Homo sapiens: one gene and its partners. The main gene of each other region encodes a partner of the protein of the gene in region 2 in a complex. Each region holds a gene or a part of one and is shown on either strand. Other genes may lie near its edges.

Region 1 (7,119 bases), on a different chromosome or scaffold from region 2:
TCACAAAGCACAGAGGTAATTACAGGTTGAAATTGATTTGCGCCTCTTTATAAATAAGAACTGATTATAGAATAAATGTCTCATTAAATATAAAATATTGACACTGTATATTAATTATGTTACTACTCATGGTTGTGGCTCCCTTACAATTCTCATGCAAAAATAAATCCAATTTTAATCGGTTGTGAGAAAACAGTCCACCATGTGCTTGTATCCAGGAATAAAGAATTACATAGATTATCTGGCATATTGTCATCACATCCTCTGTAACTATTCATAAAAACAATAATTCACATTTTGGGAATGCTTTTTCCAACATCAATCAGGAAAATACAGCTTTATAAGGTGTTTCAGATTGCAAGAATACATCACATTAGAAACCCATTATCATGAGGGACAGGACTGGTTTTTATTTGTTTATGTGTAATGTGTTGATATGCCAAGTATTTTGAGAAAAGATCTGACTCTGGACTTCATTTGTACTGTTAGAATGCATTTTTCTTAGCAACTGAACAATGTGTATTCTTATTTAATTTTTGGAATTACTTTACCAATTCAAAATGCCATATACTACAATATTTCATTCACAGTCCCTAAATTTGCCTGTTTGCCTTACCCACTTTCCATCATTTTATTAATAAATTGATTATAAAACATTATACTACAAGTCAAGTACTTATGAATAGCCAATACTAGCTAACTTCTCTAATTCTCCCAGAGACAGCCCTTAACATCAACCAAATAATTCTAGAGAATAGTGCTTCTCCCCTTATAAGGCTGATTTGAGTGAAGATATTTTCCTCCCCCAAAAAGCTATTATGTTTAATAAGTATGAAGTTTAAAATATTTTAAAATATGAATGAAACCCACCTCTAAACTCTCTATAAGGATCTATTCCAGAATTTATACAAATTGTTCATTTTTTCTTATTGAACTTGTATTAAGCCAAGGGTCAGCAACTATGCCTTCAAGCCCAATCCAACCCCCACCTCCATTTTTATAAATGAAGTTTTACTGGAAGACAGCCACTATTCATTTATGTATTATCTATGGTTATTTGTAGGCCACAATAGCAGAGGTGAGTAGCTGTGACAGACCACATGGCCTTCAAAGCCTAAAAGACTATCTGGATCTTCATAGAAAAAGCTTGCCAACTACTATTTTTAAGCACTTTCATAAAAACAAAACAAATAAACTATTTAAATTTGTTTCAATTACAAGGATGTAAATATTTTTCTATGTTCTTCTCATCACAAAGACACACACTTGGGCCTATACATGAGTTGATCAGAAATTTTATGGACTAGCCTGAATATCTAAACACTACTTACATTGTTTCTTTCAATTATTTAAAAAACTGAGTTGACGTCTTCTGAAATCAGGTTTATGGATAATGAATCATGGAAAATTGCTGACAATAATAGCTAGCACTACTTCAATACAAACTTAGAGTTTATTTACTCACATTTATAAACTAACTTTAACATTAGAAATTCTCCAATTCTTAAAAATTAAAAATTGAAGACTACATGGAATCAATTTTTTTCAAATATACTGTCTGTAAAATTCAACATTAATGTGTTCATATTACTTTCATACCTAACCAATTGGGCATCAAGAGACTTTACTAATCATCTCTGTCAATTCTACCATTCCTAGTCATTCTTAATATTCAAGTTAGAATTTTGGGCCAATCTATCAAAACCTTGTTAGCATTTTTGCTTTTCTCAAGCAAACACATTTTTACCTACCCACACCTCTCAGTGCTAGGGAGCAACTTTTAGAAGCACTAGCAAACTACCACCAGTGGAATCGGATAAATGCCAATGATTCAGATAACTCCAGCAAAGATTTACCCTCCTGTGATTTTCCTAAACATCAGGGAAAGAAAACACATATATCCTGTATTACTGTTACTTGAATGCCTGATTTATATAGCACACTAATTTCTCTTTTCCACTAGTTTCCATAAATACTAAAGTATCAAAAAGTACTACTTTTTTCTAAAAGTTTTCAAAATGCCCATTATATTTTCACACTATTTAATAAAAAAAAGAAACCAAGCTACCAAACTTATATTTAGGCAAAAAAAAAGGTTTTTTTTTCAATAAAATGTAGAAATATTTTAATTTACATATTACAATGAATCAATAAGGAGTCAAAATCCAGTGACACACTCATAAAAACTCCATATATCATCCTCAGAATAATCAGTTTCTGTACAAAGATTTACAGATGTCCAAGTATGTAGTTTTTCCTCAGTGTGCTACAGAATTTAAAGGTTCTGCTCGAATATTCCCCAAATCAAGCGCAGAATCTGTTTCTTCATCGATTTCTCCAATGACTGCACTAAAAAAGTCAGAGTTAAAACAATCACATTTCTGAAATAAATTACATGTGTTTCAAAAATCTTACTAATCAAATCAAAGCACTGAGTACCATTCTTCCAAAAAATAAAACTGAGAGAGCACAGTAAAAAGAATTAAGGTAAAAAGCAAACAACATTGGCGTGAGTCAGTGAACTGCATATTTAAGTCACAAAACTCAAGAAATAATTTGAAGGCACATTATTACAGGAACCAATATTAAAGGACACATTGTACACAGTGATTGTATCATGAATCTTTAAAGGAAACAGACACACAAGGATAGACACAGTAAAAAACCCTCAAACTTCCAAACCATATTTCAATTCAATTCTAGGACTGTATTAAAAATAAATTTCACAAAATCACTCCTAAAATAATTAGCAAGTAAAAATATCAATCATTTGAGTAACTTTGATGAATTAAATCAATGATATAGACAACAGCGATTAGATTGTTTTCCTAAGTTTTCAGTTAAATCCAAAGCCAGTTCTTCATATACAAAAATAATAGTAGGAACAAGTACTTTGGTATCTAACAAATCATTTTTGACGTGATTGGCTCAGGTTAAAAGCTAGAAAATTTTTTCTTGTTCAACACTAACATAGTATCTATAACTTTAAATTCATTAATACCACGCTAGATAACCAACCCATAGCCCTCTAACTGGAAATATTCAATGTTATCACTCAGACCACAAGATGTCTATGAAATATTATTTTTAAAAAGTATTGGTTGGGTTTACATTTGTTTGGTTTTAATGAGAGTAAATTCTTTTTTTTTTTTTTTGAGATAGAGTTTCGCTCTTGTTGCACAGGCTGGAGTGCAGTGGCACGATCTTGACTCACTCCAACCTCTACTTACCAGGTTCAAGCGATTCTCATGCTTCAGCCTCCCGAGTAGCTGGGATTACAGGCGCATGCCACCACACCCGGCTAATTTTTGTATTTTTAGTAGAGACAGGGTTTCACCACGTTGGCTAGGCAGGTCTCGAACCTCTGACCTCTGGTAATTCGCCAGCCTCAGCCTCCCAAAGTGCTGGGACTACAGGTGTGAGCCACTGTGCCCGGCCAAATTCTAAAGACGAATACTAGTAATAAGGGATTTGCCAAATTTTGCTTTAAAGTATATAAAGTCTTAAATCATCTAATAAATGAAAAATATGAAACTCTGGCAGAATGAATTAAGTTTTCTCAAACTAAAGGCCTCAATTCCACTCTTAAATATTCTTAAATTTTAAATGATAATATTCAGTATCATTTAAAATCCCTATGGTAAGCAGGGAAATGCTGATACATTTTTAAAAACCAGCTCTCTGGAAAAAAAGCGGGAGACTGATTTGCTGCATTTACTAATATCCATTGTGCAAACACTCCCACCACGGCCAATTTCAAGCTACTAACAAGACATCAATTAACCAGCTTGTAAAATTCCTTAAAATATAACAATATGCTTTCATGGGCCAGTAGAAGCTGGCTCTAGCACAAGACTTTTTTCACTGAAGTTCAAGAAAAAAAAATTGTTTTAAGTAGGAGAAACCTTAAAATCAATTACTATGCACAGCTCCAATATAAACAGTGTTGTTCTGATCCAGAGACCTGGGCCCTATCTGCTCTGTCTCTCTCTCATTACTTACAGCTCACCTTGTAACTCCACCTAAAAGTCATCTCTAAAATATTTTATAAACTCTTGATTTTTGATTACAGATCAAATTATTTATTCATCTAAAGGTGATGCTAACATAAACAACTTAAATGAGTAAATTATTCCTGCACTTTTTAAGTTATTCCAGGGGACAGTTAGTCCCCTAGAATTTGTTAAATGTTCTAGCTTAAAATTGCTAATGTATCTTTTGCTTCTTTCCAACTATATTTTGATTCAGTGTAGTACTCACTAGAAAACTGATTTGGCATTCTTCTAGCCTCTATAACTATACTAATACTGGCCACATGTAACTATTAAAATTAATTACAATTAAATAAAATTTAAAATTCAGTTCCTCTGTCACATCAGCCACTTTTCTTTTTTTTTTCAAGATGGAGTTTCACTCTTTTTGCCCAGGCTGGAGTGCAAAGGCGCAACCTTGGCTCACTGCAACCTCCATCTACCAGGTTCAAGAAATTCTTCTGCCTCAGCCTCCCAAGTAGCTGGGATTACAGGCATGCACCACCACACCAGGCTAATTTTTCTATTTTAAGGAGAGACGGGGTTTCACTATGCTGGCCAGGCTGGTCTTGAACTCCTGGGCTCAGGTGATCCACCCACCTTGGCCTCTCAAAGTGCTGAGATTATAGGCATGAGCCACGGCACGTGAACCACATTAGCCACTTTTCTTTTTTATTTTTTGACACGGAGTTTTGCTCTTGTTGCCCAGGCTGGAATGCAGTGCTGCGATCTCGGCTCACTGCAACTTCCACCTCCCAGGCGAATTCTCCTGACTCAGCCTCCCGAGTAGCTGGGATTACAGGCTTGCGCCACCACGCCTGGCTAATTTTTATATTTTTAGTAAAGACGCGGTTTCACCACATTGGCCAAGTTGGTCTCGAACTCCTGACCTCAAGTGATCCACCCGCCTCCACCTCCCAAAGTGCTGGGATTACATGCTTGAACCACTGTGCCCGGCCTTTTTTTTTTTGAATTGGTGTCTCAATCTGTCACCCAGGCTGGAGTGCAGTAGGGTGATCTCGGCTCACTGCAACCTCTACCTCCTGGGTTCAAGTGATTCTCCCACCTCAGCCTCCCAAGTAGCTGGAACTACAGGCGCACGCCACCAAGCCTGGCTAATTTTTGTATTTTTAGTAGAGACAGTGTTTTGCCATGTTGGCGAGGCCGGTCTTGAACTCCTGACCTGATCCACTTGCCTCAGACTCCCAAAGTGCTGGGATTACAGGCACCATGCCTGGCCAATTACTCTTGAACTTTTATATCTGTCTGTCCCAAGTAAACTGAGGCCACAGGGACATCTTAAGTGTGTCAATGATACTAAAAAATTAAAAGAAAATGAATAACGAGTAAGTACTTATTTATAAATACACCTATGTTATTGAGCATGAATTAATATTGTTCAAATCAGAGATTTCAAAACATTTTTCAAACTTTGGCCTTGGACTCTAGAAATATGTTCCTCTAAAATTCTGGGTATTTGAAAGAACGTTTTAAGAAGTCTCTCTAATGAAGTATTTAATATAAGGCAGAGCCCTTTCTGGACTCTACCCAGGCTACTTAACTAGTAGAAAAATGGGCAAATCTCAGGTAAAAGTTTAATTTGTAGAGAGACAGCTTTGGTTGAAACCTAAAGAAGTGCTGACATAAAATGTATACATATGCCTTATTTTACACAAACATAAGAAAAGGTATATTTACGAAAGAAATGAATGCAAGATTCTATTAACTATGTATGGACAATACAGTAGGGTATTTTGGGGAAAGCCTCTTCTCCATAAAGTAAGGCAGTATCATTTATAATTTTAACAGATATATTTTACTTACACGTTGTCACCTCTTACAATGTATAATCCTAGTACCACTTGTTCTACCCCCTGTGAAGAGCTGAATACTCGTTCATGGCTTTCATCCAAAATCAAATTAATGGTCTGGTCAAAACCTTTCAGTGTTCCCTGTAAAGAAAATATTCAGGAGAAAAAGAGAAATATTCTGGTTTACCTGAAAGTGTAAATTTAACCTCACAGTCATTTTAGTTGCCAGGTATTCCAATACAAGTACCTATACGACGGCAAATAAAATGCCTTTTTTATAACCAACAGTATTCGAGGGTACACAATTTACCTCTTGGTTATTTGGCTGGGGTGGGGGGACCTGCACCACACATCTCACTCATATGTAGAGTTGACAGCAGTTGCAAAGGACACCTATGTACTAATGTGACTATCTCCAAGTAAGTAGCATAAAAGCTTATGTAGACCAGCAGCTAAAGGTATAAACTAAGACAAAGGATATTTAAGGGAAAATGATAGCCAAATATACATAAATAAGGAAGAACCATACATACCAACTACAGCAATGTAATAGTATCACTATATGCTATATGCCAGCACTAGGCAGTGTGCTAAACACACTGTACACATTTTCTCAACTCATCTCTACCCTTTGATTTAGTACTATAATTAGCCCCATTTCAAAGAAGAAACTGAGGCACAGAATGGTGTGTCTTATGATCACATGGGTAGTAAGTGGCAGAGCCAGGAGATGAACCACAAAAGGCTAGCTCCTGAGCCAGACCACTAAACCATAACATTCTATACTATTATACACAAGTAAATATAATTTGCCATTTTTCAGATTCAAATCAGTCCCATAAATATACTAAAAATTTAACTAGTAGTTACATGTAACACCTAATGAGTACATACTAGTTACCAGTGTTCTGTGTGTCTCACATGTATTGTTTAATGTGTATCATATGGATTTATTGTTTAATTCTCCCAGTAAGGTAGATACAAATGTGACTATACTAATTAAAACCAGAACTTGAAGGAAATAATCAGGGAGAGTTTTATGAAAGCTTAGTATTGAATAAAAGAAGACATGGGTCTAGCATAACAGAGTAACTCACATGGTATTCAAGTTTCTGAAGAAATATCAACTAACATTGGTTTTGATGGTTAAACCTCTCAAGTTCTTAAACTGTTTTATCTTCTGAAAGTCAAAATATATAAAATGAGAATGAAATAAAAAAGAGAATGAAATAAAATGAGAATGAAATCTGTAACTTGGAAGAGAAACAAAATATGGA
Region 2 (7,119 bases):
GCCCAGGAATTTGAGACCAGCTTAGGCAACATAGCAAGATCCTGTTTATATTTAAAAATAAATAAATAGGCCGGGTGCGGTGGCTCACGCCTGTAATCCCAGCACTTTGGGAGGCCGAGGTAGGTGGATCACGAGGTCAGGAGTTCAGGACCAGCCTGGCCAATATGGTGAAACCCCATCTCTACTAAAAATACAAAAATTAGCCAGGCGTGGTGGCACATGTCTGTAGTCCCAGCTACTCTGGAGACTGAAGCAGGAGAACCACTTGAGCCCCGGAGGTGGAGGTTGCGGTGAGCTGAGATTGCGCCACTGCACTCCAGCCTGGGTGACAAAGTGAGACTCCATCTCAAAAAAAAAAAAAAAAAAAAAAAGCTATGTCATGGGCAAGTTCTATAACTTGTTTTTTATGAAGACATAAGAGGTATAACATATATAAATTTCTTACCATGGTACCTAGTACACGTAGACCTGAGTAAATATTATTTTCCTTCTTGCCTCCCCTTATCCCCCAGGAATTTCTGCTATTTAGTAAAGGAACACTGGGCTCCTCAGGAATTTATGCCTCCTCCCCTTCAGGGATAGAGCACTGTTAACTACAACAGAAATACTGTGTTCCATTACACACATCAGCAATTCCAAGTGCAGTCCAAGAATTTACTAAACCTAATGGGAATCATCCACTTGCCTTTACCCCAGTATCTAGCCTATCCTGGCCCCTGGCCCTCCTTTTTTTTTTTGAGAGGGAGTCTTGCTCTATTGCCCAGGCTGGAGTGCAGTGGCACAATTTCAGCTCACTGCGACCCCCGCCTCCCGGGTTTAAGTAATTCTCCTGCCTCAGCCTCCTGAGTAGCTGGGATTACAGGTGCCTGCCACCATGCCCGGCTAATTTTTGTATTTTTAGTAGAGACAGGGTTTCACCATGTTGGTCAGGCTGGTCTCAAACTCCTGACCTCATGATCCAACCGCCTCGGCCTCCCAAAGTGCTGGGATTACAGGCATGAGCCACCGCACCCGGCCCCCCTCCTTTCTGTAGATCTGCCTGGTTGTCTCATCCTGTGGACATGCGAGATGCTCAGTCTAGCTTTCATAGTAGGGTTTGAGCTGTTATCTCACCTGCAGTCTTTTCTCCTTGCTTGTCTGAATACCATTTGCTCAAGGCAGATTACTATAGTAACTCCAGCCAACGCACTCTTTCACCTCAATAATTGTTCAGAAGACATTTTTTGCCTTAAAGTCTTGACTATATCATTTGGTATTTTGTGGTTTGCTATCTTGTTTTATTCAGCTTTTCAAAGAAACAGCTTTGGTTTCATTAATTTTTATCGTTTTTCTCTTTTTTGTTGCATTGATTTTTTTTTTTTTTGAGATGGGGTCTCTATGACCCAGGTTGGTGTGCAGTGTCGCAGTCTCAGCTCACTGTAACCTCTGCCTCCCAGGCTCAGGAGACCCTCCCACCTTAGCCTCCCAAGTAGCTGGGACCACAGGCACATGCCACCATGCCTGGCTGATTTTTCTTTGTATTTTGGATACAGACAGTTTCGCCATGTTGCCCAGGCTGGTCTTGAATTCCTGAGCTCAGGTAATCCACCCCCCTGGGCTCCCAAAGTGCTGGGATTGTAGGTGTGAGCCACCACGCCTGGCCTTGTTGCATTGATTTCTTCTCTTATCATTGCCATCCCTTTGCTAGTTTGTTAAGGTAAAAGGTTAGATTATCAATTTTGGACCTTTCTCTTTTTTTTTTTTTGAGACAGAGTCTCGCCCTGTCACTCAGGTTGGAGTGCAGTGGCGCGATCTCTGCTCACTGCAAGCTCCGTCTCCCGGGTTCACGCCATTCTCCTGCTTCAGCTCCCAAGTAGCTGGGACTACAGGTGCCCACCACCACACCCGGCTAATATTTTTTTTTGTATTTTTACTACGACGCGGTTTCACCGTGTTTGCGAGGATGGTCTCGATCTCCTGACCACCACCTGATCAGCTTGCCTCGGCCTCCCAAAGTGTTGGGATTATAGGTGTGAGCCACCGCACCTGGCCTGGACCTTTCTCTTTTTCTTTTTTTTTTTTTTTGAGATGGAGTCTCACTCTCTCACCCAGGCTGGAGTGCAGTGGCGCGATCTCAGCTCACTGCAACCTCCGCCCTCTGAGTTCAAGCGATTCTCCTGCCTCAGTCTCCCGAGTAGCTAGGATTACAGATGCCTGCCACCGCACCCGGCTAATTTTTTTGTGTGTTTTTAGTAGAGACAGGGTTTCACCATCTTGGCCAGGCTGGTCTTGAACTCTTGACCTCGTGATCCACCTGCCTCGTCCTCCCAAAGTGCTGGGATTACAGGCGTGAGCCACCGTGCCCAGCTGACCTTTCTCGTTTTTTTTTGTTTGAGACGGAGTCTTGCTCTGTCGCCCAGGCTGGAGTGCAGTGGCGCAATCTTGGCTCACTGCAACTTCCGCCTCCTGGGTTTGTGTCATTCTCCTGCCTCAGCCTCCTGAGTAGCTGGGACTATAGTCGCCTGCCACCATGCTCAGCTAATTTTTTGTATTTGTAGTAGAGACGGGTTTCACCGTGTTAGCTGGGATGGTCTTGATCTCCTGACCTCGTGATCCACCCACCTCAGCCTCCCAAAGTGCTGGGATTACAGGGGTGAGCCACCGTGCCTGGCCAACCTTTCTCTTTTTCTAATAGTATTATTCACTTCTGTAAATTTTCCTCTCAGCATTGCTTTAGCTGCATTCCTCCCTTTTTTTTTTTTTTTTTTTTTGAGGCAGAGTCTCACATTTTCGCCCGGGCTAGAGTGCAGTGGCACGATCTCGGCTCACTGCAACCTCCGCCTACCCTGTTCAAGCGATTCTCCTGCCTCAGCCTCCCAAGTAGCTGGGATTACAGGTGCCCGCCACCACACCCAGCTAATTTTTTTTTGTATTTTTAGTAGAGACAGGTTTTTACCATGTTGGCCAGGCTGGTCTTGAACTCGTGACCTCGTGATTCACCCGCCTTGGCTTCCCAAAGTGCTGGGCTTACAGATATGAGCCATCGTGCCCGGCCCCATTCCTCACATTTTAATATGTTGTGTTTTCATTTTTATTTAGTTAAAAGTATATTCTAATTTCCCTTATGAGTTCATATTTCACCTTAGGTTGTTTCAAATTATGCTGTTTACATATTTGGGGGTTTCCCTTATTAGTTTCTGCTTTGATTCCATTATGATTAGGAAACATGTTGTATATGATCTTAGTTTTAAAAAATGTATCAAGATTTTTTTTTTAATAATTAATTCATTTAGAGGTGGGATCTCACTCTTGCCTAGGTTGGACCCAAACTCCTGGGCGCAAGCGATCCTCCTGCCTCAGCCTTCCAAAGAGTTGGGATTACGGGCATGAGCTACTGCACCTGGCTGAGGCTGACTTTTTGATGTCCTAGCGTACAGTCTCTCTTGGTGCCTGTCCTATGTGTGCTGGAAAATATCTGTTAATCTGTATTCTGCTATTGTTAGGTTGAGTGTTTTACAAACATTAGGTCCAGTCAGTTGGTTACATTGCTTAAGTCTTCTATATCCTTAGTGATATTTTTTGTATACTTCTATCGATTACTGAGGAGTATTAGAAATCTCTAGTAATCCCAGCAGTTTGGGAGGCTGAGGCTGGTGGATTGCTTGAGCACAGGAGTTCGAGACCAGCCTGGGCAACATAGCGAAACCCCATTTCTACAAAAAAAATACAAAAATTAGCTGGGTGTGGTGGTACACGCCTGTAGTCCCAGGTGCTTGGGAGGCTGAGGCGGGAGAGTCTCCTGAGCCTGGGAGGTGGAGGCTGCAATGAGTGGAGATGGTGCCATTGCACTCTAGCCTGGGCAACAGAGCAAGACCCTGTCTTGCTTGAGAGAAAGATCCAACTACAGCTGTGAGTTTATTGTCTTTCAGGTCCATCATTTTTGAAATTCTGTTATTAGTTACATAATGTATTTAGGATTATTAGGTCTTCTGAACGAGTTGACTACTTTATCGTATCAAATATCCCTCTGTATTCCTGATAACATTCCATGGTCTGAAGTCTTTGTCTTAATCAGTAGTGCCACTCCAGCTTTGTTTTGTGTTTGCATGGGTGTATTTTTCCATCTTTTTACTGTTAATCTGTGTCTTTGTAACTAAAGTTTATTTCCTATAGACAGCATATAGTTGGCTCTTTTTTTTTTTTTTTTTTTTTTTTTTTTTGAGATGGAGTCTCTTCCTTGGTTGCCCAGGCTGGAGTGCAGTGGCATGATCTTGGCTCAGTGCAACCTCTGCCTCCCGAGTTCAAGCGATTCTTCTACCTCAGCCTCCCAAGAAACTGAGACTACAGGCGCGTGCCACCACGCTCAGCTAATTTTTGTATTTTTAGTAGAGACGGGGGGTCTCACCATGCTGTCCAGGCTGGTTTCGAACTCCTGACCCCGAGGCCCGCCTCAGCCTCCCAGAGTGCTGGGATTACAGGTGTGAGCCACCATGCCCGGCCTTTTTATTTAAATCCAATTTGACAATGTTTGCCTTACAAATGGTCTAAATACCTCAATTAAGGTTAATGTAACTATCAATGTGGCAATGTAGCTCAGTTTAAATCTACCGTCTTACTCTTTTTTTTTTAAATTATTTTTTCTGCTTTTCTCTTGTCCTGCCTTCTTCTGAATTTAGTTGTTTTGTGACTTTATCTCCACTTTTCACTTATTTGGCTACATGGTTTTTTTCTTATTGTTTGCTCTAAGGTTTACAGTATATACATAGCTCACTTACTGTGATCTACTTTGACCATTAGTCTACTACGGATCACTTCACATATAGTACAAGAACCTTAGAATAATACACTTTAAGTTCCACTCCCACTCTTAGTAGTATTTTTGTCATAACATTTTAATTGTACATGTATTATAAGTGCTATAATACTTTGTTACTCTTTTTGCTTTGAACAGCCTTTATCTTTTGTAGAAATTGCAAAATGAGAAAAAATATTTTTTTGCATTTTACCCACATACTTACCATTTCTGGTGTTCTTCACTAGTTTGTATAGCTCCATCTGGTGTGCTTTTTTTTTTCTTTTTCTTTTCTTTTTTTTTTTTTTGAGACACAGTCTTGCTCTGTCTCCCAGGCTGGAGTGCAGTGGTGCGATCTCAGCTCACTGCAACCTCTGCCTCCTGGGTTCAATTTCTGTATTTTTAGTAGAGACGGTTTCATGTTGGCCAGGCTGGTCTTGAACTCCTGACCTCAGGTGATCCACCCACCTCGGCCTCCCAAAGTGCTGGCATGACAGGCGTGAGCCACCACACCTGGCCCAGGGGAACCATTTTTTTTTTTTTTTCCCCTGAGATGGAGTCTCGCTGTGTTGCCCAGGCTGGAATGCAGTGGCACAATCTCAGCTCACTGCAACCTCCACCTCCCAGGTTCAAGCGATTCTCTTGCCTCAGCCTTCTGAGTAGCTGGGATTACAGGCGTCTGCCACCACACCCGGCTAATTCTTGTATTTTTAGTAGAAACAGGGTTTTGCCATGTTGGCCAGGCTGGTCTCCAACTCCCGGGCTCAAGCAGTCCTCCCACCTTGGCCTCCCAAAGTGCTGGGATTATAGGCATGAGCCATCGCGCCCAGCCTCATTGTGTTTTGCTTTCTATTTCCCTAGTGACTAATGATGTTGAACTCAAATCTTTCTTTAGTAGTAGGGATAAAACTAACTGCATCAAGTAGTCTCCACCCTCCCCGCCCCTGGCTCATCTGTAATTTACTTTTTTTTCTACTACCTTTAGATTGTGAATAAGTGGAATACAGCTCTCATTGGCCTTATGACATACTTTCGGGAGGCTGTGGTGAACACCCAAGAGCTCTTGGACTTACTGGTGAAGTGTGAGAACAAAATCCAGACACGTATCAAGATTGGACTCAACTCCAAGATGCCAAGTCGGTTCCCCCCGGTTGTGTTCTACACCCCTAAGGAGTTGGGTGGACTCGGCATGCTCTCAATGGGCCATGTGCTCATCCCCCAATCCGACCTCAGGTACAGCCTGGTTCAACGTATTTCTAAACCCTATTGCTCAGGCCCTAAGGGAAGTGGGTATTTCTTTAGTTTTAGGCTTTATTTTTTCTGTAATCTTGGTTGTACACCCAAACAGGTGGTCCAAACAGACAGATGTAGGTATCACACACTTTCGTTCAGGAATGAGCCATGAAGAAGACCAGCTCATTCCCAACTTGTACCGCTACATACAGCCATGGGAGAGCGAGTTCATTGATTCTCAGCGGGTCTGGGCTGAGTACGCACTCAAGAGGCAAGAGGCCATTGCTCAGAACAGGTGGGCACCTAGGAGGGCATGCCAACCCTGGGGCAGGGGCAGTGGTGGCCTTTGAACCGTGTGGAGTTCAGGGTCAGAGCATGCCATGGTTGTATGGAGGTGAGAAGGCTGGTTCTACTGACCCTAATTATTTTTGGCCAGGAAGGAGTGCTGAGCTCCTCATATGAGATCACGTTTTGACTTGAATCTTTCTTTTTTTGGAAGACGCCTGACTTTAGAAGACCTAGAAGATTCATGGGATCGTGGCATTCCTCGAATCAATACCCTCTTCCAGAAGGACCGGCACACACTGGCTTATGATAAGGGCTGGCGTGTCAGAACTGACTTTAAGCAGTATCAGGTATGTAGAGGGAGCAGATTTTCCCTGAGTCAGGAAAATCCATGGCTATCCCCGAAACTTGGGGCAATAGGCACCCAGAAGCTTGACCGTGCCTGCCTTGCCATCTAGGTTTTGAAGCAGAATCCGTTCTGGTGGACACACCAGCGGCATGATGGGAAGCTCTGGAACCTGAACAACTACCGTACAGACATGATCCAGGCCCTGGGCGGTGTGGAAGGCATTCTGGAACACACACTCTTTAAGGGCACTTACTTCCCTACCTGGGAGGGGCTTTTCTGGTGAGGATTCTCCTCTCTTAGAGGGACCTGTCACAACCCTTTGAGCTCATCTCTTGTATGCCTCTGTGATTTCCTGTGGTGTTTCCCAGACAGCCACCTCCAGGAGGTTAGCAGTGTGCTGGGAAATGGCAGGATATCACCTCACCTGCTTCTCTTGCTCCCCAGGGAGAAGGCCAGTGGCTTTGAGGAATCTATGAAGTGG
Region 3 (7,537 bases), on a different chromosome or scaffold from region 2:
TTACAAGAAAGCTATGGTTAGCAAAAAAGAACTATTTCACTGGGCTCTCTCAGTGAATAGAGCAAAATTCCTCCAGAACTATCTACCTCTCTTGCTCTGATTCCTTGCCCACAAATCAACTTCTTATGAAAAACTCAGCTTTCCAGGCACTGTGACACCCAGAAGTAAAAGAGAAAATGAAACAAGCATTTAGCCCACTAGAAGGAGACTTACCTCCATTCAGAAAAAAACAAAAACCACAGCTGATTTCTGACTAAGTTTCATATGACTAATTAGTGTGAACCTATCATAGATCATCTATAGGTATTCTTAAAAAGTCCAATTTCTGGCTCAAAAAGGCTGAGATTTGGACCATGGAATTTAATGCCTCAATCAAAGTGCTAAAGTCGGTTATCTACAGTCAGTCGTACCCAGCCACTTTCAAGAACTTCCCCATCACCATTCTCTCCAACACCCACATCAAACCTGGCTATTGTTCTCAAGCCTGAAGACTGGGTCTCTGTAGTAAAAACAGCAATTGCAACAATAACAACAAAAACTAAAACTACGGGTCTTTGATAGGAAAGGAATAGTACTTACATTAACAAAATCTCCACCCTGAATCATGAAATCCTTTATGACCCTGAAACAGAGAGCAAAGAATACTGAGAAGATTTTATGGTTTAGAAAAACATAGATGTTGTTATTATTGTATTAGATTAACGTTGATTTCAAAATACACTATCACTTTGGCTATTATAAAATCATTACTCTTAGCTGGGTGCGGTAGCTCACGCCTGTAATCCCAGCAGTTTGGGAGGCCGAGGCAGGCAGATCACATGAGGCCAGGAGTTTGAGACCAGCCTGGCCAACATGGCAAAACCCCGTCTCTACTAAAAATACAAAAATTAGCCGAGCGTGGTGGCACATGCCTGTAGTCCTGGCTACTCGGGAGGCTGAGGCAGAAGAATTGCTTGAACCCAGGAGGCGGAGGTTGCAGTGAGCCAAGATCATGCCACTGCACTTTAGCCTGGGCGACAGAGTGGGACTCTGTCTCAAAAAAACAAAACAAAACAAAAAAAACCTGAAGATTATTCTTTTCCTGAATGATTAAGCTGAAAGGATAATTAACCATAAAAAAGGATTTTCGTTATAAATTAGGGCATGTTAGAGTTGATCAAGTGCATGATCTGGTACCTGAACAGTAATAAGAAGAAGGGGCTGAAAGCTTACTTGCCAAAGCAAAAGGCAGAGCAAGGGTTTGATGTAAATTTGGGGGAAAGAACTACAGAGAATTTATGTGAAATGTACTGCTAAACATGTAAGGGCTTAACAACTGTTAGCTATTACCCCTAGGGAGGGTCCTTAACCTTTCTTATCCTCAGTTTCCTCCTCTGTAGAATGCAGATCACCCATACCACTTCACAGGAGTCTTACTGGGGATTAGAGACCCAAAGCTCTAAAGCTGTGATATAATTATGTGCTAACATTGTTACTAACCACAGTGAGGCCATGAGAAAGATTCTATATTGAAATGAGACTAAGTGTTGACATACTCCACTCCCCAGGAAATATGATTATCCTTGGACAATCATATATGATCATTTTAGGAATTAGTTATAAATATCAACCAGCAGGATATATTATATGCACTTTAGGATTACAAGTGTACTTTTTAAAAAATCTGCATTCGCACAAACAAGTGCATGAAAAAGACAAGATATTGTAAAGATGAGTAGTTTCTGTTTTAAAGACCTAAGAAGTGGGGGAGTGTAAGTAGAGTTAGAACATTTAATAAATCTTCAGTTGTTGAGTCCACAAAAACATTTCTTCTCAAGAAATGTAAGAATTACCCTCTGGTTTTATTTTCCTCTAAAGAGCCTAATCCCCCAGGAAATATTTCTGAAAGACTCCAGGATGGCTTGCCAAGAGCCTTACCTGTGGAAGGTGCTTCCTTTGTATCCTATTGGAACCCCATCTTTCCTATAACCGAAAAGAAAGAGACTTGGAGTGACAGCAGGTAGCACAAGGCCTTTCCAGTTTACCATGCACTGGAGCCAAAAGGACTCTCCTAAAGATGGTTGACAGACATAAAGAAGGCAAATAAACTAGGGACAGACCCTTGGGGCATTACCTTCTATCACTGTCACCAGCAATCATTCAAGGCCAGCAGGTGGTTCACCGATACCCTCACTGCAGCCCCAGAACACCCCTCTGGAGCAGGCAAAGAAGTCAAACACATCTGAAACTGACCTGAATTCTCCGGTGCAGAACTGCCTGAAAGGGACAAAAAATGAATGATTCAATCACTATGATGTCACAGTCGTGAGCGCCTCTAAATACGGGAAAGAATAAACACTGGAGCCAGCAAGTCCACCAATCGGCCAGCCAGACGTCCAGACACGCAGTCACACAGACTAACAACGTAAATTAACACGGGAACAATCCAAACGGCAACCAGACAGAGCAATGCATGGAGGAATCAGGTCTCAAGAGCAGTGAGCGGACGGACAGAGGTAGACAGGCTATTTCAGGCGGCTGACTGGAGCCCGACTTCTGCCTCAGCTAATCCAGCGGAGCTGGAGCACGTCCTTACCTAAAGTTCTCGGCCGTCTTAGGCACAACGTCTGCAAAGAGCTCGATCTTCATGCGGCCAACTTCCTGCAATCAGCGGGAGAGTGTCAGAAGGCCCAGTCCAAGACCATGAGGGCTTCACGGAGCAGGGGGCATGATGGGCTGACCCACCACCCTGCCGCTCGGTATCTCCCACCTCCGCCTCCCTAGTCTAACCGCCCAGTTCCTCCAGAAGCGGGGCGCTAGGATTGGGGAGACTCCTCCTCCTCCTTTCCCCCCGCCCGGCAGGTCGGTAGGTTCGGGTGCAATTTCACTTTCTGGCTGGCTTCCCGAGTCCGCTCTCTCTGGGTGAGTTCTGCCTGCCTAGCCCCGAGCAGTTTCCCTTCGGCGCAGGTGTGGGCAGCCTCCTGGATCTCACCTGACCGCCAATACTGACATCAAAGAACACCACGGGGTTAACAGGACTTGAATTTGCCACCGCCATGGCTCCGACCCGGAAGCAGAAGTCGGGAGCGTGGGATTCCGGCGAACCTAAAGCCCGGTCCGCGGATTTCGTCCGGGGAGCAGGCGCGGTAGACGTGGAGCGAGACCAGGCTCCGCCCCCGGAAGCTGTCGCCCCGTGCGGTGTGTGCTGAGACTGCTAGGGTCTAGCTGAGAGACTCTGCCTGGCACTGGGGACGCGGGAGTGAGGAGGAGGAAAGCCTTGACATCTTTTTGGTTAAGGTCAATGGTCACCCCACTCACGTGGCTGTACTAAGGGCAGTACAAGTTGATCTTGCTCTAGCTAGGACTTTTGGACTAGGCAGTCGCCAGGGTCCTCCTTATCGGCTCTTGCAGCCAAGCCCTCTGCACCGCCACACGTGCTGTCTGTCTTCTGCCCGCTAGTGTGAACACCGTGAAGGCAGGAACTCTGGTTTGTTCATCCTCAGCGTTTAGAACAGCTTGGCACGTACAGGCTTGCTAAGTAAATATCCCTTCCTCTAAGTCAGGACAATAGATAATGTTTGTTCTGCCACAAAAGCTACCAGTTTTGTCATTTCCAATTCATTTCCCATAAAGCAACTAGAGTTTTTTATTTTTTATTTTTAAAATAACTCTTGTGCTTCCTATTTATTTTAAAAATAACTCCTGGCTTCCCATATTTAGAATAAAATCCAATTCCGTGCATACGAAGCCCTACAGTGCATTTATCTGGCTATCACGTACCTGACCTCATCTTGTACCACTTGCCCTTAGTTACTGTGCTCTGACCTGTCTGTTCCTCCAGGTCACTGAGATCCCTCCTCTCTTTAGGGCTTTGTAATAGCTGTTACTTCTGTCTGAAATATTCCTTCCAGAACTTAATGTGGGTTGGCGGGGGATTGTGGGGGTTGGTTGGGGTATGCGTGTGGGAAGTAATGCTCCTTGTAGTTCAGGGCTCACCCCAGATGTTACCTCCTGAGAGGCAACATTAGACCTAATCTAAAGTAGCCCTTGGTCATTCAGATCACTGGTTTGTTTTCTTCATGCCACCCCCACTTCCACATTATCTTCGTATGGTATGTGTCTACACCTCATTTCCTGCCACACACACATAATCTTCCTCCCTGATAGCATATAAACTCCATGAAAGTAGAGACTCTCCTGGTCCTATTCGCAGCTGTAGCTGCAATGTCGCCTACTGAATAGCATATAGTAGGTATTCAATAAATAATAGATGCAATGAATTTAGTGAAAGAAGGGGACCTTGGGCAAGGCTCATTCAATATAACAGCATGCATTTAATAAAATAGTTATTATTTCCTAGTTCCTATGATCATCTTTCTAGCTCTGTTGTCTGAGAAAGCAAGGATTACATATAAAAATACAGTGTGTCTCAATGTAAAGGGTCATTTTTATTTCTGGTTACTGATCCTCTCCTCTTGGTCTCCTCCAACTGAAAAAGAAGAAAGGGGAGGAGGGGGAAAAGGAACAGCAGCAGTCACGCTTCAGTATAATTTTATACCAACTGTTTTAGAATAAATCTTTAAAATTGATAATATCCAATGTTGATGAGGTTGTGAAAAAAATAGTACATTGATAAACCTCTAGTGAAAATAAATGATGATAGCATTTATTAAGCAGTTACTACGTGCTAAATACTTTACATGCTTCATTTCATTTGGTCCTCACAACCCTATGGGATAGAGAACTATTATTGTTCCCATTTTAGGAATCAAGAAATTGAGGCTCAAGGAGGTTGAGTAACTTGACTATGAAAACAGTATGTTGACACACTTTTTATTTATTTTATTATTTATGTATTTATTATTATTATTTTTTGAGACAGAGTCTCACTTTTTGCCCAGGCTGGAGTACAGTGGAGTGGTCTCAGCTCACTGAAACTTCTACCTCTTGGGTTCAGGTGATTCTCGAGCCTCAGCCTCCCGCATAGCAGGGACTACAGGTGTGCACCACCATACCCGGCTAATTTTTGTATTTTTAGTAGAGACAGGGCTTTGCCATGTTGGCCTGGCTGGTCTTGAACTCCTGGCCTCAAGTGATCCACCTGCCTCGGCCTCCCAAAATGCTGGGATTATAGGCGTGAGCCACCGCACCTGGTCAGGCAGAACCCTTTTTTAAAGCAAAGGAAGTGATGTCCTAGAGCAATATTAACATTTATATCCTTTGACTCAGTCCAATCTTGCGAATTTGTTTTCTGGAGTAATTCAAAAGAAGAAAAGAACTACATGCACAAAGACCTTCAACACAGCATAATCTTAAATAGTAACAAAGTAAAACCAGGCCTGGCATAGAGGCTCATCCTATAATCCTATCACCTAGGAGGCTTAGGTGGGAGGATCACTTGAGCCCAGAAATTTGAGACCAGCTTGAACAATAGAGTGAGAGTGAGACCTCGTCTTTACAAAAAGTACAAAAATGAGCCAGGCATGGTAGCACATGCCTGTACTTGGGAGAGGCTGAGGAGAGAGGATCACTTAAGCATGGGAGGTTGAGGCTGCATGAGCAGTAATCAAACCACTGCACTCCAGCCTGGGTTACAAAGTGAGACCCTGTCTCAAAAAAAAAAAAAAAAAAAAAAAAGTAAAAACAGCTTAAATGCCAAACAAGAGAACGTTTAATTTATAGAACATCCACATCCTCAGAGATACTGAGCAGTACTGTTCCACCCTGATAGATGAAATGGATGTGAATGTTGCTGATCTTTTCTGAAGAAGCAGTCCCACTACACTAAAGATGAGCTGGAGACTGTTCACCTACTTTGTACTCCTGTTTGGAAATATTTAGGGGTAGTTTCTGTGTAATGGGGTTTATGTGAACTCTCTTCTCATACCCCCTCCCCCAGGAAAAGCTCTTGGTATTTTCCTATCCACTTTTATTTTATTTTATTTTATTTATTTTTTCGAGATGGAGTCTTGCTCTGTCACCCAGGCTGGAGTGCACTGGTGCAGTCTCGGCTCACTGCAACCTCTGCCTCTCGGGTTCAAGTGATTCTCCTGCCTCAGCCTCCCCAGTAGCTGGGACTACAGGCGCGCGCACTACCACACCTGGCTAATTGTTTTTGTATTTTTGTTAGAGACGGGGTTTCCCTAAGTTGGCCAAGCTGGTCTCGAACTCCTGACCTCAGGTGATCTGCCCACCTCGGCCTCCCAAAGTGCTGGGATCACAGGTGTAAGCCACCACGCCCAACCTCCTATCCACTTTTAAATAATGTATTGCTCTAAATCTTCTTCATTAAACATTTAAAACTTTTCCCATAAAAATAATTATAGAACATCAACATGATTGAATATCATATGGCGATTGAAAATGTTTCCATGGTATATACAGTAAATTAAAAATCAAACTGTGAAAATGAATATACAATATTATAATAACCACTTAGAATATATGTACTTGAATTAGGACCAAAAGGGAATAACTGTAAAATAAAATTAGTTGTGTTAAGACTGTGGTATTGGTGTAATCCCAGCACTTTGGGAGGCTGAGGTGGGTGGATCACCTGAGGTCAGGAGTTCAAGACCAGCATGGCCAACATGGTGAAACCTTGTCTCTACTAAAAATACAAAAATTAGCTGGGCATGGTGGCGGGCACCTATAATCCCAGCTACTTGGGAGGCTGAGGCAGGAGAATTGGTTGAACCTGGGAGGCAGAGGTTGCAGTGAGCGGAGATCATGCCACTGCACTTCAGCCTGGGTGACAGAGTAAGAGACTCCGTCTCAAAAAAAAAAAAAAAAGCTTATGGTATTATAGGAGGGTTTTTGTTTTTGTTTTTTGCTTTTTTTGAGACGGAGTCTCACTCTGTCACCCAGGCTGGAGTGCAGTGGTGCTATCGCAGGTTCACGCCATTCTCCTGCCTCAGCCTTCTGAGTAGCTGGGACTACAGGCACCCGCCACCACACTCGGTTAATTTTTTTGTATTTTTAGTAGAGACAGGGTTTCACCGTGTTAGCCAGGATGGTCTCGATCTCCTGACCTCGTGATCCACCCACCTCAGCCTCCCAAAGTGCTGGGATTATAGGCGTGAGCCACCACGCCCAGCATAGGAGGGTTTTTTTAAAAACAAAATTTGCTTTAATGTGACTGTATTGTTTTTACTGTTAAAAAATAAATCAGAAAAGATACCCATGATAATGGGAAAGAATGTTGAATTAACCCTACATGTGCTCTGCTGAAGAGAAACCTAAATAAATCATTGAACTAAAGTCAATATTTTGGTCAATACAAGGCATCTGAGGATATCAAACAAACTTGAGAAATCCATTTTTACAACTGCTTTAATGAATTTATCAGCAGTTTTGAAGACTCTTGGGTGATATCCATTTGGGATCTGTGGTAACTCTTCTCAATGTCATGGTCCACCTTTTGTCCAGGCTTTAAATTACCACTTTTGTTCAGTATAGCTTTAGGCACCAGTGATTTTATAGTTCTGACTTTTGGTCTTGTTCTTGTATACCATGTGTCTCCTTCAGAGAAGCCACATTTATGTATCCAGCCTCAGAA
Region 4 (7,119 bases), on a different chromosome or scaffold from region 2:
GTCGCATGTACCCTCCTCTGGGCTGACTCACGAGGCTACAGGGGACAGCACACCTAATGAGCAGGTCTGTCCTCCAGACATACTCATTAACAAGCACGTTCCTGGCTAAAAAATAACCAGATCTTTTTGGCCGTGCCCTCAGGTTGGAGAAAGAAAACTTTTAATTTGGAATCACTACAAAGACAAATGGTTTCTACAAATTATTTTATTAGAATGTCAGACTCAAAAGAACTACCAGGAACATGCCTGAAAATGCTATATATGATTTATGCTTGACCCATGACACCTGCTGTCACTGGATCCAGAGTGAGCAAGGGAAAGGAAGTGGAGGTAGGCGGGGACAGCACCAGCCCTGGCTGGCCAGACCTGAGGCCCACAGACCTGGTCCCCACAACCAGGATTCCTACAATGTACACATTCCTAATTCAGGCTCAACTCTCCTTTACCCAAAAGTAAATGCCTCAGGACTCAATCTGAATCACTGTCTGTCTCAGCTTCTTTCACATCCACGCTGAATTTGTACTCCTGGTCACATCCCATGTAAGCGTCACTCATGAAGTACAGAGTGTAGTTGTGGGCACCAGTGGCTGGGGCCACAAAGTCCAACTTCACCTAGAAAGAGCAGGCAGAAATCAAGATGAGCATGGACACAGGAAGCATTCTCACCCTTCCCCCATGCCAGAACAAATGCTAGGGCCAGTGGACACACTCACCTTGGCCTTCTGCTGCAAGGTCAGCCTCTTGATGGAGATGAGGCTATTGGACTTGGCATCTCCAATCACCACCCACCAGCCCTCTTCACGTTTCTGCAGTGATCCAAAACCAAGAATTTCAGCATGTAAAACTTGATGACCATAGGCAACCATGAAAATGGTACAGTTACAAAAGAGAGAACAAAAATCAGATAGCTTTCCAAAGTTTCTTCCCGAAATACAATTAGATTTAACATTTTAATACTATCAAAAGTTGTCTCAAACAGACTTAATTTTTTAAGTAGATGAATTCATTTGTTGGTTCTGGCTCATTTCCTTGTGCCAAGGTACCTTCTCCCACTTAGTACCTGCCACTAAGTCCAAGGTACTACTATTAGAGGTCTAGTCTTTGGGGCCTAGGAGCTTTGAGTTCCTTAGAGATACTTTTAAGTACAAGGCAAATCTGCCAGATGAGAAAAAGCTTAGGCTGGGCGCGGTGGCTCACGCCTGTAATCCCAGCACTTTGGGAGGCCGAGGCGGGTGGATCACGAGGCCAGGAGATCGAGACCATACTGGCTAACATGGTGAAACTCCGTCTCTACCAAAAATACAAAAAAGAAATTAGCCGGGCATGGTGGCGGGTGCCTGTAGTCCCAGCTACTCGGGAGGCTGAGGCAGGAGGATGGCGTGATTCCGGGAGGCGGAGCTTGCAGTGAGCCGAGATCGCGCCACTGCAGTCCAGCCTGGGCGACAGAGCGAGACTCCGTCTCAAAAAAAAAGAAAAAGCTTAACACAGAGCTGAATGTGCACAGAGATATCCACAGCAGGCCTTGCAGCCCTGTCTACGGGCTGCCCCGCTGTCACAAAGACGAAGAGTCCCAGTTAAAAGCAGTCTTTACTCAGAGCCTTGAAACAATTAGTTTACAGAATTAAACATGACAGTATCTGGTTTCTGCTATCAACCTTCAATTATTCTCCCATATAAAGAGAACCAGAATTTCTTTCTGGTGGTAAAAAACCAAGCACCCAGAAGCACAGTAAGTGGCAGTGAGAAAAAAGAAGAAACAACCAGGAAAGCCCAAGTGTCCTGCAGCCATCGGAGTTAAAGACAAATGCATCTTAAAGAGTCAGAGAGATGGACAATACTACACAACTGACGGGTTTAACAATGACCAGTCATCTAAATTTTTTTTTTTTTTTTTTTTTGAGATGAAGTCTCACACTCGCCTGGGCTGGTGTGCAGTGGGGCAATCTCGGCTCGCTGCAGCCTCCGCCTCCTGGGTTCACACCATTCTCCTGACTCAACCTCCTGAGTAGCTGGGACTACAGGTGCCCACCACCACGCACAGCTAATTTTTGTATTTTTAGTAGAGACGGGGTTTCACTATGTTGGCCAGGCTGGTCTCGAACTCCTGACCTCGTGATCCGCCCGCCTTGGCCTCCCAAAGTGCTGGGATTACAGGCGTGAGCCACTGCGCCCGGCCCTAAACTGTTTAAGCAGAAACAAACAGAAAAAAAACCCCATAGCCTCAAGATTAATTCTCACCCTTGTGAGCTGATTATCAGTCTAAAGTTTCCCTCCCTCAGGGACAGTGTGCCCTTGTACCAAGCACCTAGCCAATGGATAGGGTGAGTTGACACCTGACCAAGCCAGCTACCAGGACGCACCTGCGGGAAGAGAGGCGCAATGACAGGGCCTGTGACTTCCTCCTCTCGCTCCAGCTGCACCAGCACCACAACTGGCCCGCCACTGCAGGGGGAGAGGAGGGGCGCACGTCAGTGATGGGGCAGTGGGCTCAGAGCACACTATTATGCTGTGCCCAACAGGCACCACCTCTGGCTCACCTGCGGATGCTGTCCTTATCTACCACCTCATAAGATAGTTCGATATTAGGGTAGCGGTTACAAAAGCGAGCCACATCTGCAATCTGGCTGTCAGTCAGCTGAAGCAACGCGTTCCGTTCTTCATCCTCCATCTCCATGATGTCGAAAACACTCTCCACTCCCTGCAGTGAGTATTCAGACGTCAGGAAAGAGAGAACACGGGCCAACAGCAAATGACACAGGCAGCAAAGAGCTACTAATTTTACCTCCTACACTATCAAGTCATCTAGATAAAACAGCTGCAGAAAGAACACAGCCCACAGTTGGCAGGCTCTCTAGCATCTCAACAGGGAGCACCTTCGGAGGAACCATAACTAAAAGTTTAACTTACTGAGACTCACCTCCCGCAACCCACGCTCGGTCCACAACACTGGGCTCTCAGGCTCACCCACCTGACCCTCTAGGCTGACCCGGCTCACCTTGTCTGTGCAACGTTTGATATGCTCAGAGGTGAAGTGTGGCAGCTGCTTCAGGTATGAGTCCTTGGACCACATGGCTTGGGTGACCATCTGGGCCAGTTCCATAGCTGCCAGAGCAGGGCTGAGCCACCCATTGCTGGAAAGGACATCCACGCAGGCCTGGATGAGCCGGATTGCCTGAACAGGAAAAGGAGTATAAAAGTGGGCGGAGTTGGAGCTGAGATGTTTAGAGCACCACTGACCCCTCTGCCCCACACCCACACTCTACCTTACTAAGGATTTCCTCCGTATCTGACTGCAACTCAGCACTCAGCTGCATGCGAGACAAGTGAGCCTGCAGGAGCAGGTTGGTCTTGACGTGCGGATCATTGAACTTAGGGTTATTCAGCTTGTGGGGGACCTTCTGAGCCAACTACAAAGTGGAAGAAAAATAGCTGGTGATGAACAGGTGACCCTGCCTGAGACCAGCTCAGGCCAAAGCACCACGTGGCCCAGGCTCACACAGCCCTTCAACACCCTGAGGCATGTGGGTGGTAATGGGATGGAGATGGGTTTGAGGGAGGTATGGAGCGGGAGGACATATGGCGGGGGTCGGGGGATGCGTATGGGCGTGTTGGTGGCAGGGATGCCATGTGCTCTGGGCACACAGGCCGAGTTTGTTGTTCCCAGGATGCTCTCCTGAAGTCTGCTGTCCTCACCTGCCTCAGGAGATTGTCTTCATGGTGCCGGATGGGAATGTTCTCATACTCTGCTGCATTGGAGATGATCTCGATAAGCCCTCGCACCTTGGTCTTGGCATTGAGGGACATGCTGAAGAGCTCTGACAGAAAAAGGAAATGTGAGAGAAGCTAAAACCAGGCAGAGAAGGAGCAGAACTGCCCGGGCTCCCCTGCTGTCCCCTGCAGTGTCATCCCGCTGACAAACACGGGCGCACCTCTCATCCCAGTGGGCTCCTGACCCGTGTAAAAAGGCTCCCACAGACAGGACACGGGCCATGCCGGGCCTCACCAATGGTGGTGTAGTTGATGTAATAGTAGGCGGCGATCATGCCTAGGTTCAGAGGCGCCACGTCCATCTCGTCCTCGATGCTGATGCACTTGGACTGCTCCAGGTCACTCAGGGTCTGCTCCACCAGCTCTGACAAGTGGTCCGACAAGTGACGATGGGAGATGCCTATGGAGGCGAGAGGTGAGTGGGGAGCCTCAAGAAGATGCCCAGCAAAGACTGTGAGAACCACCAAAGGATCACGTGTGCTCCCAAGCCCACTGACCCTGCAGGTTGTAGTAATTGGGGTTCTGTGTCATGCGGCGGTACAGAAAGGTCCAGGTGAGGTAGTCCACAGCATCCTGCTTGTTCTCAATGGTCTTGGTGACGATCTCAGCATTGAAGTGGTCATGCATACAGTGGTCCAGGTGAGATTCTACTGGCAATGGCTCATATAAGAACTTCTTGAAGAAATCCTGTGGGTTGGAGAGGGAGAAGGAGTAATAAAGAATTAGTGACAACACGGTCACAGAGGGCCAAGGGCAAATCAACAGGGCATGGTCCCTGTGTGAGACCTAACTAATACCAAAATGGAAGAAGCCACACATTTAGAAAGTGCATCACTGGTGACAATACGCAGTGGGAACAGAGGTACAGCAAGTCACGAGGGCAGAGCAGTGAGCAGCCCAAGGAGGAAGGAGAGAACCAAGTAGAGGGTGAAGACCTCAACACGTGGAGCCAACGGCAGCAGCAAAAGCAAAAGGCAGCAAAATTCCATGTGGGTGGCAGGCTCGTCACAAAAGAATTGTGTAAATAAGAGAGGCAGAAGTTAAGAGACTAAAGTTACTGAAGACATCTATCAAAAGAAAGATTAAAGAATCCATTCTGAGGCTACGGATCCAAGAGGCTCCATGAGTCTAGGACTGACCTTCTTGGAGCCCTGACACATGATGACACAGCGCCCCTCATCGTCCTGCAAAGGGCGGTTGGCGTGGCCCACCATCTGAAGCACGTCATAGATGGGGTAATCCACATAGCTGGTGACAGAAGCAGGGAAAGAAGGAAAAGCCACCTCAACACGGAGACCATGCTCAGGAAGCCCAACTCCCTTCGCCAAGTAAGAGTAAAATGTTAATACGGGGAGACACGGACAAATCACGGGACGACTCTGTTTATGAATCTCTGCACTTACAACTAGCTTCACTGGCTGGCCTGTATAACATTTTAGTATTCAGTGTAAGGGCCATGAATTTGCTGCTCAAGTGCCATGAACCAAGCTACAAAACTATCTAATGCCAAAACCAAAATAACTCCCTATTCGAGGATCAAATATGTAAGTCAAACTTCCCAAACTTTTCTCCTTTAATTAAAAAAAATTATTATTGTTTTTATTTGTTTTTTGATACAGGGTCTTGCTCTGCTGTCCATACTGGAGTGCAGTGGCACAGCCACGGCTCACTGCAGCCTTTACCTCCTAGGCTCAAGTGATCCTCTCACTTTAGCCTCCAGAGCAGGTGGGACTACAGGTGCATACCACCACACTTTCCAAACTTCATAGTTGTGTATTTCGTGAGTCATCAAGTCACCCAACTTTAACCCTACCTAGAAGCAGGTTCAAACATTAAAAATGAACCCGTAAATAAAATTCATTTCAAACTAATCTGCATTTCAGGAAAAAGTTATTAAGCGTTGGGCCAGGCACTATAACTCACACCTGTAATCCCAGCACTTTGGGAGGCTGAGGTGGGTGGATCACTTGAGCTCAGGAATTCAAGACCAGCCTGGGCAACATGGTGAAAACCCATCTATACAAAAAAAAGGAAAAATTAGCTGGGAGTGGTGGCACATGCTGGTAGTCCCAGCTACTTGGGAGACTGAGGCAGGATGATTGCTTGAGCCTGGCAGGCAGAGGCTGTAGTGGGCTGAGATCATACCACCGCATTCCAGCCTAAACGACAGAACAAGATTGTCTTAAAAAAAAAACAACAACAAATTATGCAGGCTTTTTTATGAGAATGACTGACTCTTCTAACTTCTTTTTTTTTGAGATGGAGTCTCGCTCTGTTGCTCAGGCTGGAGTGCAGTGGTGCTATCTCGGCTCACTGCAACCTCCGCCTCCTGGGTTCCAGCGATTCTCCTGCCTCAGCCTCCCAGGTAGCTGGGATTACAGGCGCGTGCCACCACACCAGGCTAATTTTTGTATATTTAGTAGAAACAGGGTTTCACCACATTGGCCAGACTGGTCTCGAACTCCTGACCTTGTGATCCACCCGCCTTGGCCTCCCAAAGTGCTGGGATTACAGGCATGAGCCACCACACCTGGCCCTTTTTTTTTTTTTTTTTTTTTTGAGACGGGGTACCACTCTGTTGCCCAGACTGGAGTGCAATGGCGCGATCTTGGCTCACTGCAACCTCTGCCTCCTGGGTTCAAGTGATTCTCCAACCTCAGCCTCCCAAGTGGCTTGAATTACAGGTGAGTGGCTTGAATAACAGGCACCTGCCATCAAACCTGGCTAATTTTTGTAGAGACGGGGTTTTGTCATGTTGGCCAGGCTGGTCTTGAACTCCTGACATCAGGTGATCTGCCCACCTTGCCCTCCCAAAGTGCTGGGATTACAGGTGTGAGCCACCACACCCAGGCTTTTTTTTTTTTTTTTTTTTTGAGTTGGAGTCTCACTCTGTTGCCCAGGCTAGAGTGCAATGGTGGGATCTCAGCTCACTGTAGCCTCTGCCTCCCAGGTTTAACTGATTCTCCTGCCTCAGCTTCCCAAGTAGCTGGGATTACAGGCGCCTGCCACCACACTCAGCTAATTTTTGTTATTTTTAGTAGAGACGGGGGTTTCACTATGTTAGCCACACTGGTCTTGAACTCCTGACCTCAAGTGATCCGCCCGCCTCAGCCTCCCAAAGTGCTGGGATTACAGGCATGAGCCACTGCGCTCGGCACTCCTCTAGCTTCTTACTTGTCACTATATAGGTGTATGACCTCGACCAAGTCACTTTTCCTAATCTACAAGATGTCTGAGATTAATGACGTAACGTCAAACATTCCTCCTGGCTCTAATTTCCTACCTCTCCCAGCTGCTGAATAAGGAAGCACAATGACTAAAAAGCAAATGTGAGCCTAGGTATTGAGACAC

The links.
Region 1: PRPF8 (region 2) and LSM8 share a complex: the UniProt entries of both Homo sapiens proteins name them as parts of the U4/U6-U5 tri-snRNP complex.
Region 3: PRPF8 (region 2) and PPIH share a complex: the UniProt entries of both Homo sapiens proteins name them as parts of the U4/U6-U5 tri-snRNP complex.
Region 4: the proteins of PRPF8 (region 2) and SNRNP200 are in contact, whole or in part, in a cryo-EM structure (PDB 7OS2), measured with the Homo sapiens proteins. Residues at the interface, in NP_006436.3 of Homo sapiens: Trp2073, Arg2074, Ala2077, Ile2078, Ala2081, His2084, Asn2109, Lys2113, Tyr2168, Glu2171, Met2172, Arg2266, Leu2268, Gly2269, Phe2270, Gln2276, Arg2287, Leu2298, Ala2299, Asn2300, Glu2303, Glu2307, Arg2310, Pro2311, His2313, Phe2314, Leu2315, Asn2316, Phe2317, Ala2318; in NP_054733.2 of Homo sapiens: Pro543, Met544, Arg545, Ser546, Thr570, Gly571, Thr589, Glu591, Lys592, Ile595, Arg624, Arg728, Lys729, Glu773, His786, Ala787, Thr814, Glu837, Tyr992, Thr1008, Ser1010, Ile1012, Leu1041, Glu1042, Arg1043, Val1044, Pro1045, Ile1046, Pro1047, Val1048.

Annotation. Positions count from the first base shown.
Region 1 is NC_000007.14:118,187,142-118,194,260, reverse strand, and holds part of LSM8 (LSM8 homolog, U6 small nuclear RNA associated), read right to left. Parts: intron 5,984-7,119; coding exon 5,856-5,983; intron 2,350-5,855; coding exon 2,259-2,349; 3' UTR 1-2,258. UniProt on the Homo sapiens protein: Plays a role in pre-mRNA splicing as component of the U4/U6-U5 tri-snRNP complex that is involved in spliceosome assembly, and as component of the precatalytic spliceosome (spliceosome B complex).
Region 2 is NC_000017.11:1,660,791-1,667,909, reverse strand, and holds part of PRPF8 (pre-mRNA-processing-splicing factor 8), read left to right. Parts: intron 1-5,756; coding exon 5,757-6,004; intron 6,005-6,119; coding exon 6,120-6,299; intron 6,300-6,503; coding exon 6,504-6,639; intron 6,640-6,747; coding exon 6,748-6,917; intron 6,918-7,082; coding exon 7,083-7,119. UniProt on the Homo sapiens protein: Plays a role in pre-mRNA splicing as core component of precatalytic, catalytic and postcatalytic spliceosomal complexes, both of the predominant U2-type spliceosome and the minor U12-type spliceosome.
Region 3 is NC_000001.11:42,653,947-42,661,483, reverse strand, and holds the start of PPIH (peptidyl-prolyl cis-trans isomerase H), read right to left. Parts: upstream 3,062-7,537; 5' UTR 3,038-3,061; coding exon 2,972-3,037; exon of another isoform or gene 2,641-2,971; coding exon 2,576-2,640; exon of another isoform or gene 2,257-2,575; coding exon 2,233-2,256; exon of another isoform or gene 2,140-2,232; coding exon of another isoform or gene 2,114-2,139; exon of another isoform or gene 1,963-2,113; coding exon 1,918-1,962; exon of another isoform or gene 1,858-1,917; intron 623-1,857; coding exon 580-622; intron 1-579. Other genes in the region: CCDC30 (coiled-coil domain-containing protein 30), read right to left, coding at 7,456-7,537. UniProt on the Homo sapiens protein: PPIase that catalyzes the cis-trans isomerization of proline imidic peptide bonds in oligopeptides and may therefore assist protein folding. Participates in pre-mRNA splicing.
Region 4 is NC_000002.12:96,274,544-96,281,662, forward strand, and holds part of SNRNP200 (U5 small nuclear ribonucleoprotein 200 kDa helicase), read right to left. Parts: intron 5,017-7,119; coding exon 4,908-5,016; intron 4,456-4,907; coding exon 4,266-4,455; intron 4,169-4,265; coding exon 4,004-4,168; intron 3,816-4,003; coding exon 3,694-3,815; intron 3,408-3,693; coding exon 3,264-3,407; intron 3,173-3,263; coding exon 2,996-3,172; intron 2,699-2,995; coding exon 2,538-2,698; intron 2,443-2,537; coding exon 2,361-2,442; intron 807-2,360; coding exon 714-806; intron 613-713; coding exon 469-612; 3' UTR 1-468. UniProt on the Homo sapiens protein: Catalyzes the ATP-dependent unwinding of U4/U6 RNA duplices, an essential step in the assembly of a catalytically active spliceosome. Plays a role in pre-mRNA splicing as a core component of precatalytic, catalytic and postcatalytic spliceosomal complexes.